Linked DNA regions of Homo sapiens: region 2 is linked to region 1. The links come from fine-mapping of genetic effects on gene expression. A gene starts in region 1. The other region holds a variant in brackets. All regions are shown on one strand. Distances are between the middles of the regions.

Evidence for each region. PIP is the estimated chance that this variant, and not a neighbour inherited with it, causes the effect. A credible set is the group of variants that fine-mapping cannot tell apart.
Region 2: its variant is the best candidate, but not a certain one, in a credible set for the expression of FBLN7 in whole blood (INTERVAL, PIP 0.74).

The regions. Positions count from the first base shown.
Region 1 is chr2:112,135,059-112,140,536 of GRCh38, forward strand. It overlaps FBLN7 (fibulin 7), which reads left to right and starts at 3,327. Exons shown (of 8, transcript NM_153214.3): 1 at 3,327-3,672. The coding sequence starts at 3,598. RefSeq lists an enhancer at 5,144-5,478.
Region 2 is chr2:112,068,450-112,073,705 of GRCh38, forward strand. The region is part of intron 4 of TMEM87B (transmembrane protein 87B); the gene reads left to right. Among named protein-coding and RNA genes, the nearest start is that of TMEM87B, 16 kb to the left of the region's middle. The variant G/A (reference allele first, on the strand shown) is at 2,273.

The DNA of each region.
Region 1 (5,478 bases):
AGTAGAGACAGGGTTTCATCATCTTGGCCAGGCTGGTCTCAAACTCCTGACCTCAAGTGATCCGCCTGTTTCAGCTCCCAAAGTGCTGAGATTACAGGCATGAACCACCGCACCTGGCCTCTGTTGGGGTCTTAAAGACAAATTTCTGCAACAAATCTTCCCATTTTGTGTTGCATGCCTATGTTACACAGAGAACCTGAATGTATCAGAGCACTAATCCAAGGAGATGGCAACTGATCTTACCAAAAGATGTTTAAAATACTTTCTGTAGACATGTTGAACCCCACCAAACCAATCCCCCGACACTCAGGAATATTCTCTTGAAAACTAAATAGAGGGGAAATAGAGGAATAAACTAGCTGATAAGGGCCAGGCATGGTGGCTCATGGCTGTAATCCCAGCACTTTGGGAGGCTGAGACGGGTGGATCACGAGGTCAGGAGTTCAAGACCAGCCTGGCCAAGATGGTGAAACCCCGTCTCTACTAAAAATACAAAAATCAGCTGGGCATGGTGGCAGGTGCCTGTAATCCCAGCTACTTGAGAGGCTGAGGCAGGAGAATAGATTGCCTCTGTGAGGCAGCAGAGGTTACAGTGAGCTGAGATCATGCCACTGCACTCCAGCCTGGGCAATAGAGTGAGACTGTCTCAAAAAAAAAAAAAAAAAAGGCTGATAGGCCCATTGTATTCAGTTAAAGGTGAGGGTTGGGGGCTTAAAGGTAGAGCACCCAGCTGATTTTCATGGGCTGTCTGCTTGTAGACAGCCTTGGTAGGTTCTGGACTTGATAGGCTCTGCCTTGATTACTGCAGATCCAGGGCAGCTGAGGACAAAGACAGAGAAAGGACAGTGCTGCTGGGGCAGTCAGATCTTAGAAGGTTCATTCAGACCAGATGCCAGAACACTTAGAGGGAAGGCAGCCATAGGGAAAGGGTTACAAATATAAATAATTACATAGGAAAAAAAATCCTGTTGAAACTTAGAAATATTTGAAAAGTAAAAACAAAAGCAAAAACCCAAGAAAACAAAAAACAACAACAACAAAAAAACAGAAAACCCCCCATTACTGTAAATAAAATTCCTGAAATGCTATGATCATGTATTTAATATAAGCAACATAGTAGCCCTAAAATGAGAGGTGGGATAAAGTCAAAGGTAGTCTGTCCTAGAAACAGCACCGCTCTGGGAGGGGGATCTTGAGACCAGAGTTTGCATTCCTTGGGCAAGTCAGTCAACCATGCCCCGATTCAGCTTCTTCATCTGTGAAATCAAGAATCTCTTCCAGCTTTATGACTCCACAGAAAGGGCAGGAGAAGAGAAAAGAAGGCTTGCTTACATCTGCCCGATGTCTGGTTACCAGCGCATAGCCAGAACAAGGCTGAGAGCCAGAACAGCTGGCCTTCCAGAGAAGGTCGCCATGTAAACACAAGGTGGGATAGGACACAAAATATTAATAAATGCAGCCACACTGACCAGGAGGAAGCTTTTCAAGGATAGGGCAGAGGACAGAGAGACAGAGAGGGAGCAGGGCACTGGCTTTTGGTACAGACAGCAAACACATGAGAGATCGAGGCAGAAAACCACCATCTCCACAGGCTGCCCTGGATCGGGCCATGCTGTCCCGTCCTCTCCACCTGGATAGGGAGAAGCAGGGGTATGACCATGTCTCTCTTCAGGATGTTCAACCAGGAATGCAAAATAAAATTACATGGATCCCTTGCAGGCTGCAGTGGCTCACACCTATAATCCCAGCACTTTGGGAGGCTGAGGCGGGTGGGTCATTTGAGGTCAGGAGTTCAAGACAAGCCTGGCCAACATGGTGAAAACCTGTCTCTACTAAAAATACAAAAATTAGCTAGGCGTGGTGGTGCATGCCTGTAGCCCCAGCTGCTTGGGAGGCTGAGGCAGGAGAATTACTTGAACCAGGGAGGCAAGGCTGCAGTGAGCTGAGATCAGGCCACTGCACTCCAGCCTAGGCAACAGAGCAAGACGCCGTCTCAAAGAAAAAAAAGATTTACATGGGTCCCGTTCCACCTCCTTTGCATGGGAAGGTTGGGGGAGCAGCACTGTAGGATTTCCTGGGCAACCAATGCCCAGGAGGCCAGCCTAAACCATGTCCCCTGCTTTTTGGGGCACTGGCTAGGTTCTGAATGTTGGTGTCTCCCCTAAATTTATATGTTGGAAACCTCATTCCCAAGATGATGGCATTAGGAGGTGGGACCTTTGGGAGGTGACTAGGTCATGAGTGCAGAGCCCTCAAAATTGGGATTAGTGCCCTCAGAAAAGAGGCCCCAGAGAGCTGCCTTTCCCCTGTGAGGACACGGGAACCAGAACTCTGGCCCTCGCCAAACACCTAATCTATTGACACCTTGATCTTGGACCTCCCAGTCTCCAGAACTGTGAGAAACACGTTCTATTGTTTATAAGCCACTCAGTTTATGGTATTTTGCTATAGCAGTTTGAAGGGACTAAGCCAGGACTCCAGCTTTCCTTTCTGGCCTCTGCTGGGAAACAGCTCCTGCTCTGTGGTCACAGTCTTGTGGGCTCCCCGTTCCCTGAGCTCTGAGTGGGCTCAACAAAGTGAAATGTGGAAGAGGAAAAAGAGATCTGGGGCTTGACCAGACTTGTGTGTCCCAGGACATCTGCAGTGACTGCCTTCAGAAAACCTTCCAGGAAGAACGTCAGTCATGCCTTCCGGGAGCTCAGGTCTGAGGCATCTGGTTGTACCACAGCCCTGATGGCAGGGGACTTCAGACTGCTCATGCCGGCCTGGCACTTCCTGATTCGACTTCAGCAAGGCAGGCAATGTTCTAGAACCTGACCTCCGATTTAAACTGAGTTTCTCCTTCCCTTGAGCAAGGAGGACAGTGAATCAGAAGGACGTAGATCCCCTCACTGTATCACTGTGTGTGTATCTACTCACTGTGCGTGCGTGTTCTCACGGCCCCATTGCATTATTTAAAGGGACACTAGTTTATTCGGATGGAGAGCTCAGTCCACCCCACGTCAAGCTTATGAAGCCCATTTCCTGGCCCCCTTCTAGGAATGTCGGGAGGAGGGTGTCGCGTGGGCTTTGAAGTAGGACAGACCTGGGTTTGGGTTTCTGTTCTGCCACTTGTCCTTGGTGACTGAGCCTCAGTCTACTTGGTTGGGAAATAGGACGGTCGGGAGTGAACCCGCCCAGGGTGGGCTTCCAGTCACCCGCACATATGCGGGGCACTGGCCGCCCATCCCTGCCAGGCCCCGAGGATGCCCGCGCTCGTCCTCGGCGTCGCGGGTTGGGCGCGCTCCCGGGCGCATTCCCGGCCGGGCAGCCCCTCCTCCCTCGTCCTTAGCCCAGGGGCCGGCGCCTCCCCGCCTCGCGCGGACTGTCTCGTGCGGGCAGCTGCGGGCGCACCTGGACCCTCGCAAGGCCCGGGCGGCGCCGATCCCCGCGGGACGCGCTGCGCTCGGGGCCTCCCGCCTCCCCCCCTGCCCCAGCCGCCCCCCGGCCGCGCGGCGCCCCGCACCCTGCAGGGACGGCTGCCGCATCGCTGGGACAAACTCGGCAGCGGAGGCAAAGTTATTTCCCCTCCCAGGCAGCGGGATTCCGACTGGCAAGATGGTGCCCAGCTCTCCGCGCGCGCTCTTCCTTCTGCTCCTGATCCTCGCCTGCCCCGAGCCGCGGGCTTCCCAGGTCAGTGTCCCTCCCGCCTCTCTCCAGGCCAGTGTCCCTCCCGCCTCTCTCCAGGCCAGTGTCCCTCCCGCCTCTCTCCAGGCCAGCGTCCCTCCCGCCTCTCTCCCCTGTCCCTCCCGCCTCTCTCCCCTGTCCCTCCCGCCTCTCTCCAGGTCAGTGTCCCTCCCGCCTCTGTCCCCTGTCCCGCGCGCCTCTCTCCACGCCAGTGTCCCTCCCGCCTCTCTCCAGGCCAGCGTCCCTCCCGCCTCTCTCCAGGCCAGCGTCCCTCCCGCCTCTCTCCAGGTCAGCGTCCCTCCCGCCTCTCTCCAGGCCAGCGTCCCTCCCGCCTCTCTCCAGGTCAGCGTCCCTCCCGCCTCTCTCCAGGCCAGTGTCCCTCCCGCCTCTCTCCAGGCCAGCCAGTGTCCCTCCCGCCTCTCTCCACGCCAGTGTCCCTCCCGCCTCTCTCCAGGCCAGTGTCCCTCCCGCCTCTCTCCAGGCCAGTGTCCTTCACGCCTCTCTCCAGGTCAGTGTCCCTCCCGCCTCTCTCCAGGCCAGCGTCCCTCCCGCCTCTCTCCAGGTCAGCGTCCCTCCCGCCTCTCTCCAGGCCAGCGTCCCTCCCGCCTCTCTCCACGCCAGTGTCCCTCCCGCCTCTCTCCAGGTCAGTGTCCCTCCCGCCTCTCTCCAGGCCAGTGTCCCTCCCGCCTCTCTCCAGGCCAGTGTCCCTCACGCCTCTCTCCAGGTCAGTGTCCCTCCCGCCTCTCTCCAGGCTAGTGTCCCTCCCGCCTCTCTCCAGGCCAGCGTCCCTCCCGCCTCTCTCCAGGTCAGCGTCCCTCCCGCCTCTCTCCAGGCCAGCGTCCCTCCCGCCTCTCTCCACGCCAGTGTCCCTCCCGCCTCTCTCCAGGCTAGTGTCCCTCCCGCCTCTCTCCAGGCCAGCGTCCCTCCCGCCTCTCTCCAGGTCAGCGTCCCTCCCGCCTCTCTCCAGGCCAGCGTCCCTCCCGCCTCTCTCCACGCCAGTGTCCCTCCCGCCTCTCTCCAGGTCAGTGTCCCTCCCGCCTCTCTCCACGCCAGTGTCCCTCCCGCCTCTCTCCAGGCCAGTGTCCCTCCCGCCTCTCTCCAGGCCAGTGTCCCTCCCGCCTCTCTCCACGCCAGTGTCCCTCCCGCCTCTCTCCAGGCCAGTGTCCCTCCCGCCTCTCTCCCCTGTCCCGCGCGCCTCTCTCCATGCCAGTGTCCCTCCCGCCTCTCTCCACGCCAGTGTCCCTCCCGCCTCTCTCCAGGCCAGCGTCCCTCCCGCCTCTCTCCAGGTCAGCGTCCCTCCCGCCTCTCTCCAGGCCAGCGTCCCTCCCGCCTCTCTCCACGCCAGCGTCCCTCCCGCCTCTCTCCACGCCAGCGTCCCTCCCGCCTCTCTCCACGCCAGTGTCCCTCCCGCCTCTCTCCACGCCAGTGTCCCTCCCGCCTCTCTCCAGGCCAGCGTCCCTCCCGCCTCTCTCCAGGCCAGTGTCCCTCCCGCCTCTCTCCCCTGTCCCGCGCGCCTCTCTCCACGCCAGTGTCCCTCCCGCCTCTCTCCAGGTCAGTGTCCCTCCCGCCTCTCTCCAGGTCAGTGTCCCTCCTGCCTCTCTCCAGGCCAGCATCCCTCCTTCCTCTCTCCCCTGTCCCGCGCGCAGGGGAGGCAGCACCAAGGCTGGGGGACCCGGGCTTGCCACTTTCCACTCGGATGCCTGGGTTGAGAGCTCGGAGCGATGCCTGGGCTGGGGTTCAGTTTTCAGAGAGAGGTGCAGGGTCCCCCACCTGTCACCTCAGATGCATCGCTGGCCGGGCCCCTGGGAGGAC
Region 2 (5,256 bases), 67 kb before region 1:
ATCTCAGCACTTTGGGAGGCCAAGGCGGGTGGATCATGAGGTCAGGAGATCGAGACCATCCTGGCTAACACAGTGAAACCTCGTCTCTACTAAAAATACAAAAAATTAGCCGAGCGTGGTGGCGGGCACCTGTAGTCCCAGCTACTTGGGAGGCTGAGGCAGGAGAATGGCGTGAACTCGGGAGGTGGAGCTTGCAGTGAGCCGAGATCATGCCGCTGCACTCCAGCCTGGGCAACAGAGTGAGACTCCGTCTCAAAAAAAACAGACAACAAAACTGAGCACAACCATGTAGACCCTGATGAATTATAGAACATTTTAGCACCTAGAACCCCCTTTTACTTCCTAACACTTTCCCTGCCAATGGCAACACTATCCTCATTAAGGAGAAGGTTTTATTTTTATTTTTTAACTTTTATTTTCAGGGGTACATGTGCAGGTTTGTTATATCGTAAACTCATGTAGGCCGGGCGCGGTGGCTCATGCCTGTAATCCCAGCACTTTGGGAGGCCGAGGCGGGTGGATCTTGAGGTCAGGAGATCGAGACCATCCTGGCTAACAAGGTGAAACCCCGTCTCTACTAAAAATACAAAAAATTAGCCGGGCGCGGTGGCGGGCGCCTGTAGTCCCAGCTACTCGGGAGGCTGAGGCAGGAGAATGGCGTGAACCCGGGAAGCGGAGCTTGCAGTGAGCCGAGATTGCGCCACTGCAGTCCGCAGTCTGGCCTGGGCGACAGAGCGAGACTCCGTCTCAAAAAAAAAAAAAAAAAAAAAAACTCATGTCACAGGAATTTGTTGTACGAATTATTTCCATGACACAGGTACTAAGTTTAGTACCCAATAGTCATTTTTTCTGCTCCTCTACCTCCTCCCAGCCTTCACCCTTAAGTAGGCCCCTCTTTGTGTCTGCTGTTCCCCTCTTTGTGTCCATTTTCTCATCATTTAGCTCCCACTTATAAGTGAGAACATGCGGTATTTGGTTTTCTGTTCCTGTGTTAGTTTGCTAAGGAAAATGGCTTCCAGCTCCATCCATGTCCCTGCAAAGGACACGATCTCCTTTTTTATGTCTGCATATTATTCCATGATGTATATGTACCACATTTTCTTTATCCAGTCTACCATTGATGGGAATTTAGGTTGATTCCATATCTTTGGCAACGTGAATGGTGCTGCAGTGAACATATGTGTGCATGTGTCTTTATGACAGAACGATTTATATCCCTTTGGGTATATAATATACCCAGTAATGGAAGTACTGTGTCAAACGGTAGTTCTCTTTTCAGCTCTTTGAGGAATTGCCACACCGCTTTCCACAATGGGTGAACCAATTTGTACTCCCACCAGCAGTGTATAAGCATTCCCTTTTCTCCACAACCTTGCCAGCATCTGTTATTTTTTGACTTTTTAATAATAGCCATTCTGACTGGTGTGAGATGGTATCTCATTGTGGTTTTGATTTGCATCTCTCTGATGATCAGTGATATTGAGCTTTTTAAAATATGCTTGTTGGCCATATGCATGTCTTCCTTTGAAAAATGTCTAGTCATGTCCTTTGCCCTCTTTTTAATTTTTTTTTGTTTTTTTTCTTGTAAATTTGTTTAAGTTCCTTATAGACACTGGACATTAGACCTTTGTCAGATGCATAGCTTGCAAATATTTTCTCTCATTCTGTAGGTTATCTTTTTATTCTGTTGATAGTTTCTTTTGCTGTGCAGAAACTCTTTAGTTTAATTAGATCCTATTTGTCAATTTTTGCTTTTGTTGCAATTGCTTTTTTGGCAACTTTGTCATGAAATCGTCACCTGTCCTATGTCCAGAATGGTATGGTCTAGGTTGTCTTCATAGGGTTTTCATAGTTTTAAGTTTTACATTTAACTCTTTAATCCATCTTGAGTTGATTTTTGTATATAATGTAAGCAAAGGGTCCAGTTTCAGTCTTCTGCATATGGCTAGCCAGTTATCCCAGCACCATTTATTGAATAGGGAGTCTTTTCCCCATTGTTTGTTTTTGTCAACTTTATTAAAGACCAAATTATTATACGTGTGCTCCGATATTTCTGGGCTCTCTATTCTGTTCCACTGGTCTATGTGTCTGTTTTTGTACCAGTACCATGCTGTTTTGGTTACTATAGCCCTGTGGTATAGTTTGAAGTCAGGTAGCATGATGCCTCCAGCTTTGTTCCTTTTGGTTAGGATTGCCTTGGCTATTCGGGCTCTCTTCTGGTTCCATATGAATTTTAAAATAGTTTTTTCTAGTTTTGTGAAGAATGTCATTG[G/A]TAGTTTGATAGGAATAGCATTGAATCTGTAAGTTGCTTTGGGCAGCAGGGCCATTTTAACAGTATTAATTCTTCATATCCATGAGCATGGAACATCTTTTTTTTTTTTCTTTTTTTTGAGATGGAGTCTTGCTCTGTCACCCAGGCTGGAGTGTAGTGGCGCAGTCTCCACTCACTGCAACCTCCACCTCCCGGGTTCATGCCATTCTCCTGCCTCAGCCTCCCAAGTAGCTGGGACTACAGACGCCCGCCACCATGCCCGGCTAATTTTTTGTATTTTTTTTTAGTAGAGATGGGGTTTCACTGTGTTAGCCAGGATGGTCTTGATCTCCTGACTTCATGATCCACCCGCCTCGGCCTCCAAAGTGCTGGGATTACAGGCATGAGCCACTGCGCCCGGCTGAGCATGGAACATCTTTCCATTTGTTTGTGTCATCTCTGATTTCTTTGAGCAGTGTTTTGTAATTCTCATTGTAGAGTTCATTCACCCCCTTGGTTAGCTGTATTCCTATGGGATTGCATTCATGATTTGGCTCTTGGCTTGGCTGTTGTTGGTGTACAGGTATGCTAGTGATTCCCCCCCCGCCCCCCCGCCGCCGCCACCACTGCCCACTCTGTCATCCAGGCTGGAGTGCAATGGCGCAGTCTCTGCTCACTGCAACCTCCGCCTCCTAGGTTCAAGCAATTCTCCTGCCTCAGCCTCCTGAGTAGCTGGGATTACAGGCACCTGTGACCATGCCCGGCTAATTTTTGAATTTTTTTTTTAGTAGAGACGGGGTTTCACCATGTTGGCCAGGCTGCTCTCAAACTCCTGACCTTAAGTGATCCTGCTGCCTTGGCCTCCCAAAGTGCTGGGATTACAGGAGTGAGCCACCACGCCCAGCCGCTAGTGATCTTTATATATTGATTTTGTATCCCAAAACTTTGCTGAAGTTGCTTATCAGCTCAAGGAGCTTTTGGGCAGAGAGTATGGGGTTTTCTAGATATATAATCATGTCGTCTGCACACAGGGATAGTTTGACTTCTTCTCTTCCTATTTGGGTGCCCTTTATTTCTTTCTCTTACTTGATTGCTCTGGCCAGGACTTCCAATACCATGTTAAATAGGAGTGATGAGAGAGGGCATTTTTGTCTTGTGCCGGATGTCAAGGGTAATGCTTCCAGCTTTTGCCCATTAAGTATGATGTTGGCTATGAGTTTGTCATAGGTGGCTCTTATTATTTTGAGATCTGTTCCCTCAATACCTAGTTTATTAGAGTTTTTAACATGAAAGGATGTTGTATTTTATCCAAAGCCTTTTCTGTATCTATTGAGATGATCATGTGGTTTCTGTCTTTAATTCTCTTTATGTAATAAATCATGTTTATTGATTTGCATGTGTTGAGCCTACCTTGCATCCCAGGGGAAAGCCTGCTTGATCATGGTAGATTAACTTTTTGATGTGCTGCTGGATTTGGTTTGCTAGTATTTTGTTGAGGTTTTTTGCATCAGTGTTCATCAAAGATATTGGCCTGAAGCCTTCTTTTGTCATGTCTCTTCTATGTTTTGGTATCAGAATAATGCTGGCCTTATAGAATGAGTTGGGGAGGAGTCCCTCCTCCTCAATTTTTTGGAATAGTTTCAGTAGGAATGGTACCAGCTCTTCTTTGTACTTCTAGTAGAATTTAGCTGTGAATCCATCTGGTCTTCGGCCTTTTTTTGGTTGGTAGGCTATTTCCATTTCAGAGTTTCTTATTGGTCTGTTCAGGGAATCAGTTTCTTCCTGGTTTAGTCTTGGGAGGGTGTATGTGTCCAGTAATTTATCCATTTATTCTAAATTTTCTAGTTTGTGTGCATAGAGGCATTGATAGTATTTTCTGATGGTTACCTGTATTTCTGTGGGCTCAGTGGTAACATTCCGTTTGTCATTTCTAATTAAGTTTATTGGATCCTCTGTCTTTTCTTCTTTATTAACCTACCTAGCAGTCTATCTGATTAATTTTCTCAAAAAAACAGCTTCTGGATTCATTGGTCTTTTGAATGGTTTTTCATGTCTCGGTCCCCTTTAGTTCAGCTCTGATTTTGGTTATTTCTTGTCTTCTGCCAGCTTTGAGGTTGGTTTGCTCTTGCTTCACTAGTTCTTTGAGTTGTGATGTTAGGTTGTTAATTAATTTGAGATCTTTTTAACTCTTCTTCTTTTTTTTTTTTTTTTTTTTTTGAGACAGAGTCTCATTCTGTTGCCCAGGCTGGAGGGCAGTGGTGCAATCTCGGCTCACTGCAACCTCCACCTCCCAGGTTCAAGTGATTCTCCCACCTCAGCCTCCCGAGTAGCTGGGATTGCAGGCACCCACCACCACACCCAGCTAACTTTTGTATTTTTAGTAGAGATGAGGTTTCGCCATGTTGGCCAGGCTGGTCTCGAACTCGTGACCTCAGATGATCCACCCGCCTCAGCCTCCCAAAGTACTGGGATTACAGGATTACAGGTGTGAGCTACCGCACCCAGCCAAGATCTTTTTAACTTTTCACTGTGGGCGTTTAGTGCTGTAAATTTCCCTCTTAATATTGCCTTAGCTATGTCGCAGAGATTCTGGTATGTTGTATCTTTGTTCTCATTAGTTTCAGAGAACTTCTTGATTTCTGCCTTAATTTCATTATTCACCCAAAAGTCATTCAGGAGCAGGTTGTTTAATATCCATGCAATTGTACGGTTTCGAAAGATTTTCTTAATCTTGATTTCCAATTTTATTGTTGTGGTCTGAGAGAGTGGTTGGTATGATTTTGGTTCTTTTGCGTTTTCTGAGCATTGTTTTATTTCTCATTGGCTGATTTTAGAGTATGTGCCATGCAGAGATGAGAAGAGTGTATATTCTATTATTTTTGGGTGAAGAGTTCTGTAGATGTCTATCAGCTCCATTTGATCCAGTGTTGAGTTCAGGTCCTGAATATCTTTGTTAATTTTATGCCTCAGTGATCTAATACTTTCAGTCGGGTGTTGAAGTCTCT